2 linked regions of the Homo sapiens genome follow. The protein of the gene in region 1 purifies or fractionates together with the protein of each later gene. This does not show direct contact. Each region holds a gene or a part of one and is shown in the gene's direction. Other genes may lie near its edges.

Region 1 (3,831 bases):
GTGAGCCAAGATCATGCCATTGCACTCCAGCCTGGGTGACAGAGCGATACTCCGTCTCAAAAAAAAAAAAAATTCCCAAAATATACATTAACAAATACCTTTTGATAAGATGGTACATTTTATTGCTATAACTTCTTGATTAAAACACAGTTAACTAGAGTTTAAACTAGCATAACTATTTAGAGGCCTTCCAGAGTGTACTCTCTCTTTCCCCACTCCCTCTTTTTTTCTTAATTGTATTTCAGTGAAACATTCTTATTCCTCCTTCTAAAGCAGAGTACCTTTTGCAGCCCACCCTGAGCCTCATTGCCTCTTAGATAGTGGCTTTCCAATTACATAAAAGTAAGAGCTGATATGTTTGTGTGCTTTCTATGTTCCAGCACTATATAAAACACTTTGTATGTATTATCTGGCTGAATCCTCATAAAAACCTCTGAAGTCAGCCGGGCGTGGTGGCTCACACCTGTAATCCCAGCACTTTGGGAGGCCGAGGCAGGTGGATCACGAGATCAGGAGATTGAGACCATGGTGAAACCCCGTCTCTACTAAAAATACAAAAATTAGCCGGGCGTGGTGGCGGGCGCCTTTAGTCCCTCGCAGCTACTTGGGAGGCTGAGGCAGGAGAATGGCGTGAACTCAGGAGATGGAGCTTGCAGTGAGCCAAGATTGCGCCACTGCACTCCAGCCTGGGTGACAAAACGAGATTACGTCTCAAAAAAAAAAAAAAAAGAAAAGAAACACCTCTGAAGTTGGTACTCATATTTTTTTTATAGTTGAGAAAACTGGGGTTCAGAGAAGTTACGTAACTTTTTCAGTCTCTTATTATTTTCTATCCCTCTTACCTTTTACCTATTTTTCTTTATAGTACTTAGCACTTCCTGTTATATTAGATGTTTATTTCCTTACTTGTCATTCATCCCCTAAACCCAACAGAATGTGTGGCCAGTGAGGTTAGACCCTTTGTTTTCTTCACTGCTGTATTCTCCAGAGTCTAGAACAGTGCCAGGCACATAGTAGGTGCACAGTTGATATCTGTTGGATGGATGGATGAGCTCAGCTCTGCCCTGTTCCAGAATCCATTCTCTTATCCCCTCTGCCTTTTACTCCTTCCCATACAGAAGCCTCACATCAGCAGTCTGGGTGGGGCCATTCCTAAGTGACCTGATTTGGACCCTACTCTTGATCTGTCATGAAGAGACTTGTGCTTAAAATTTCATCACCGCTCCCAAGTTTGTTGGTGTTCTTATTACTGCCTAGTCAGTCAACCAAATCTGTCATTTCAGAGTGAAACTTGGTTCTTTATAAGTACTAAGTCTCCATCCAAAATATCTTGACCCTATTTCCACTGCCAAGGATCATTAGTTCTTCTATGGACTATTTTTATAGATCCGTCTCCCGTCTCTCTATTTTCCACACAGCTATTAGGATGATTTTTACCTCTTTTTTTTTTAACTTTTATTTTAGGTTTGGGGGTACATGTGAAGAAGGTTTCCTGTATAGGTAAACTCGGGCTGTGGAGGTTTGTCATACAGATTATTTCATCACCCAGGTATTAAGCCTAGTACCCAATAGTTATTTTTTCTGCTCCTCTTCTTCCTCTCACCCTCCAGTCTCAAGTAGATCCCAGTGTTTGTTGTTTCCTTCTTTGTGTTCATGAGTTATCATCATTTAGTTCCCACTTATAAGTGAGAACATGCAGTATTTGGTTTTCTGTTCCTGCATTAGTTTGCAAAGGATGATAGCTTCCAGTTTCATCCATGTTCCTGCAAAAGACATGATCTTGTTCTTTTTTATGGCTGCATGGTATTCCTTGGTATACATGTACCACAGTTTCTTTATCCAATTTGTCATCCATGGGCATTTAGGTTGATTCCATACCCTTCCTGTTGTGAATTGTGCCGCAGTGAACATTTGCATATATGTGTCTTTATGGTAGACTGATTTATATTCCTCTGGGTATAAACCCAGTAATGGAATTGCTGGGTCGAATGGTAGTTCTGCTTTTAGCTTCTTTGAGGAATCATTATATTACTTTCCATAATGATTGAACTAATTTACCCTCCTACCAAGTGAATAAGTGTTCCCTTTTCTCTGCAACCTCACCAGCATCTGTTATTTTTTGGCCTTTTAATAATAGCCATTCTGACTGGTGTGAGATGGTATCTCATTGTGATTTTGATTTGCATTTCTCTAATGAGCAGTGATATTGAGCTTTTATTCATATACTTGCTGGCCTCATGTATGTGTTCTTTTGAAAAGTGTTCATGTCCTTTGGGGTTGTTTTTCTCTAATACATTTGTTTTAAGTTCCTTATAGATGCTGGATATTAGACCGTAGATTTGCTCAAATTATTCCTGTGGTCAAAATTTTTTGTGACTCCTTACTGCTTTCACAGGACTTGGCCCTGGCCTTGCTTATCTCACCATTTCTCCTATCCAAACAATATTTGATATCAGAATACTCAGAGTTCCCTTAACACATTAACTTTATCTTGACTTTATTTTGTTATTCTGTTTTCCTTCATTGCCTTCCCACCATCTTTTCAGTCCCAACTCAATGGCTACCTTCCACTTCATTTAAGTATTCCTATACATGTTTATCTCCTCTACTAGGTGATGAACTTCTTGAGGATGAGGACTCTGTCTTCTTCATCTGCATATGCTCTTAGCTCCATACATGCAGAAGATTCATATAGATGTTTAGTTAGTGCATATATGCTTTTGGAGAAGCCCACTTTAATGTCTCTGGGCCTCAGTTGCCTTGTCTGTTTCTGAGAATTACTGTTAGGATCAGATAATATGATGAAAACGTATTTACAAAATTTGAATTGTTATACAAATATAAGGCAATAACTGCAAGAAATGCTTACAGTGATTGAATTCAGTATGTTCCTTGAGACTTGGAAACTTCTAGGAGATCCCTCCACCCTAAAAAGTTATAGCTCTTATTACAACATTGAGCAATTTAATCTGTAATTTTATGCACAAAGTAGAAAACGAAGGTATATACAAAGTGGTTTTGTGAAATTAAATAACAGAGAAAAGAAGAGTATTTGGTATCACTGTTGTTTTTGGCAGATGCATAACTCAAGGAATGGATTAGAAGGTAACATTAAGTTGTTTGTATGAGTGGAAAATTAATTTGCCCTAGGACTTAGTTATATCCAGTGTTAGTTTTTACTTTATTCATGAGGTGAGCTCTGATATTGGCTGCTTCCCTCAGTTATTTTGTGTATTCTGCATCATGGCTTTGTAAAATATAAGAATGTTTAAATATTATATATTATTAATGCTTGTGTCCTATACACATTTTTAAGGCCAGGCATGGTGGCTCACATCTGTAATGTCAGCACTTTGGGAGGCTGAAGAAGGAGGATCACTTGAGACCAAGGAGTTTGAGACAAAGGAGTTTGAGACCAGCCCCGGCATCATAGGGAGACCCTCCCTCTACAAAAAATTTTTAAAAATTAGCCAGGCATGGTGGTACATACCTGTGGTCCTAACTACTTGGGAGGCTGAGGTGGAAGGATCGCTTGAGCCTGTGAGGTTGAGGCTGCAGTGAGCCATGATCATGCCACTGCACTCCAGCCTAGGTGACAGAGCAAGACCCTGTCTCAAAAAAAAGATTTAAAAAATACAGTCTTTAGTGTCTATTCATTGCATTTTTATTACATCCTGACAAACTGAAAAGACTAAAATCTTTTCCTATTTGAAATATTCTATTTAAATTCACATAAAACTTGTTTTCTTTTTAAATACTATGGTATTATATTATAGTTTGTGATATTGCTGTAATGATACCAAATCTTATCTTCCTCTCTCTTTTTATAAA
Region 2 (3,831 bases), on another chromosome or scaffold:
TGTTTTTCTGTGCTAGCTATGAAATTTATGGGTAAACTTTAAGCCTTTCCTAGTCCTTTTGTTGTCTACCTAAATTCAATTAATTTCATATGGAAGGATGTAGTAAGTGAGTAATATAAATATCTAAAATTGGATGTTTGAAAACAAAACATACCTGTTTTTTGTAATAGCTTGATTTAATGCTGAGTTCTCAAAATCATTATTAAGATTTTGAACTTTCACATTCAATGTGGAAAGAATTGAGTGTAATTACAAAAGATTTATTTGAAAAAGTTGAGTTGTTAATTTGTGAAATATGTTCCATTAAACTCATAATATTTTAGAAAAATAGTAGGAAGTAATAAAGCTTGTTTATTTTTTATATCATATATTCATATAAAATGTCAGTTTTCCTTTAAAAATTACATTTTTTTTTTGGTTAATTTTTAGGCACTTAGTCGGGCACTTTTAGAACTCCGGGCAGAAATGACAGCAGCTGCTGAAGAACGTATTATTTCTGCAACTTCTCAAAAAGAGGCCCATCTCAATGTTCAACAAATCGTTGATCGACATACTAGAGAGCTAAAGGTGAACATCAACACGTGTTAATGTAACAAAATTTCTGATAATTCCTATTGGAAGAGAATTCACTATGATATATAGTAATTTTGTTGATGAATAGGGAATTTATAATGCACTGTTGGTGGCTAGACATAGACACACACATGCATTTTTCAACAATAAGTCTCTTTATGATACTCATTTACTGATTATCATCTTGGGGATTAGGAAAGGATAGGCCATTATGAACTACTGTTTCTAATGAAATTAAATTTAAGAAATATTTTACTTAGGATTTTTTTTAAGACTTTATTATTTTTTTAGAGCAATTTTAGGTTCACAGCAAAATTGAGAGGAAGGTACAGAGATTTCCTGTATATCTCCTACCCTGAAAGTGGTACATTTGTTAAAATTGATGAACCTATATTGATACATCATAATCACCCAAAGTCCAAGTTTACCTCTATTTTAGCTCTTGGTATTTTACACTCTGTGTGTTTAGACAAATGTATAATGATATGTATCCATCATTATAGTATTATACAGGGTATTTTCACTGCCCTAAAAATCTTCTGTGCCTCTCTTCTTCATTCCTTCCTCTGCACCTCACCAAACCCCTGGCAACCAGTGATCTTTTTACTGTCTCCATAGTTTCACCTTTTCCAGAATATGTTATAGATGGAAACATACAGTGTGTCCCCATCATTCTCACCATAGGACAGCTAGGAACTCCTTTCTAGTGGCATACATATTGTCTAGTATTGTAAGTTACCCTTTTATATCTTATCTTTGTAAACTAGGTTAGAAATTACTTCAAGTCAGAGATTTGTTCTGTACTACTCTTATGCTTCATAGTGTTTAAAACGTTGTCATATATATTGTTATATACTTGTTTGTTTAATTAATTCAGCCAAAATGAAACGTGCATATTTGATAAAATTTTGTTTGTGGGTGTTTGTTGAAGATGAATTGCTTTACACTAGTTTTTTTTTTTTTTCTCAAAGTCGACTTTTTTCCTCAAGGTAGACTTGACATGAATATGGAAAAATATATGTAGTTTGTGGTTATTTTTTTTCTCTTGTGTACTTAAAAATTCAGACTGAATTTTTCTTATAATGGTATATTTTCTGTTTTATGTTCCTTTTATCATTGATACTTCTTGAAGAGTCATGAATAATACCTTTCTTTTTCTCTTATTAGACACAAGTTGAAGATTTAAATGAAAATCTTTTAAAATTGAAAGAAGCACTTAAAACAAGTAAAAACAGAGAAAACTCACTAACTGATAATTTGAATGACTTAAATAATGAACTGCAAAAGAAACAAAAAGCCTATAATAAAATACTTAGAGAGAAAGAGGAAATTGATCAAGAGAATGATGAACTGAAAAGGCAAATTAAAAGACTAACCAGTGGATTACAGGTAATTTTATATTTAACTCTGATAATGTCTGATTTACAATATAGAGGTAGTAGTTTATTTCTACTTTATCATTTTATCTATGGTATTTGTTAAAACTGACTTTCAAATCACTTTGATTAATGTAATTAATTTCTTTTGTGACTTCTATTGTGTTTATAGTTCTAGAGTAGCATATTAGTATGTTGTATTAAAATGCAGAAGCAGCTACCAGATTATCTTATGTATTAAGTGTCATTTAGAAAGTATGGTCAGTGATAGCTTCAGAAAGTTGCTATTATATAATTGAAATATTTACTGTCTATTTTGTTTTACATTTATTTGTAAAAATATAAAGTTACATTTTATTTTTTAGGGCAAACCCCTGACAGATAATAAACAAAGTCTAATTGAAGAACTCCAAAGGAAAGTTAAAAAACTAGAGAACCAATTAGAGGGAAAGGTGGAGGAAGTAGACCTAAAACCTATGAAAGAAAAGGTATGTGAAGAAACATACTGACTTATATGCTTAAGGTAGTGACAGAGTAAGTTAAATACATAGCTGATTAACAGTTAATATACTGCCTTAATTTGATGACCTGGCTGTATTAATTCTGTATTAATTTTGAGGACTATAAGCAGTATTGAATAACGTAGAAAAGTCTAAGTTTCTGTTCTGTAGGAATTTAGAGTCTACTTGAGGAGATACCTATAATGTAACTCTTATTTGGAAATTACTACATCAATTTCATTCATCTTTCTGACATTAGAGTACCTCTGAAGTTCCTTCACACCTTAACATATTCAACTGTGTATCATTTCTCTCCAAAGTAATCATTTACACAGGTTGGTGCTTTTGACTTTTGGGACAGAAAGATAGACATTTTAAGATACCCCACTTTGACCCAAATAGGTCCTTTTTAATCCTTCAGGAGACTAGGCTGTTATTTCAGATAGCAAAGTTATTTGGAATATCTTCAGTATTTGCAGTAATAATCAGTAACCAATCTGCTCATAGATTAATTCTGTGGGAGAAATTGCTTAAAATTTTATAGTTCATAGTAAACTGTTTTGTAATAAAAATTACTGATTGAAATAACCCCAAAAAAAACTAAAATTGGCTAAAATGCGTGTAATTAAATTTGTTATGGACAATAAATTGGAGATAACTTGTTGGTAACATTCAAAATATCGAAAGTGAACTGGGAAATGTTGATGTTAGCAGTAATATTTGCCATTGAAGAAAATCAGTATGGAGGAGCTATGGTTAGGAAAATTTTTATTATAAAATTTACCCAGAAAATATTTAATGTCTATAAAATAATTTCAATCACATGAAAATGGAAAAGAAAATTCTGTCTTTAAAGGCATTGAATAGAAAATAGGTAATGGAATTCAAATTTCTTAATAGAGTATGCTCCCAAAATTATTTTCTATGAAAATTCATTAATGTCAGTGTAATTTATTGACACTATTTGCGTGGAGTCACAACATGCTTGCTGTCAGAAGCTTTGCTGGTGAAAACTGTAAGATCAAAGTGTCCTTAATCTTTTGGATTTCCATCTTTCTAACTCCCTAATTGGGGATAGGCCTGATCTTATCCCTAAATGGGGATAGGTTAGAAACTGGTATGTTTGTTCCTAACTGGTGTGTTTCTATACCAGTTTCTAACCTGATTCCTATCAGAATGTTTTAAGAGCCTTGTGGCTTTGCCTGGACTCTTCTATGCTACAGTTTATTTAGTTTATTTATTCAGTTTATTCCTCCTTAAAGTGGGAATAATACTATCTGTATTGCCAGTTTCTCAGGATTATTTTACATAAAATGATATGATATGCGGAAGTCTTTTGTAAGCCATCACATCCATAGCAGTATAAGATATTACTACTAACT

What was found.
Region 2: the proteins of KIAA0586 (region 1) and CEP290 purify together in Homo sapiens (co-immunoprecipitation; one study listed by IntAct). This does not show direct contact.

The regions. Positions count from the first base shown.
Region 1 is NC_000014.9:58,542,419-58,546,249, forward strand, and holds part of KIAA0586 (protein TALPID3), read left to right. Parts: intron 1-1,464; coding exon of another isoform or gene 1,465-1,549; intron 1,550-3,831. UniProt on the Homo sapiens protein: Required for ciliogenesis and sonic hedgehog/SHH signaling. Required for the centrosomal recruitment of RAB8A and for the targeting of centriole satellite proteins to centrosomes such as of PCM1.
Region 2 is NC_000012.12:88,075,828-88,079,658, reverse strand, and holds part of CEP290 (centrosomal protein of 290 kDa), read left to right. Parts: intron 1-429; coding exon 430-567; intron 568-1,740; coding exon 1,741-1,962; intron 1,963-2,314; coding exon 2,315-2,437; intron 2,438-3,831. UniProt on the Homo sapiens protein: Involved in early and late steps in cilia formation. Its association with CCP110 is required for inhibition of primary cilia formation by CCP110.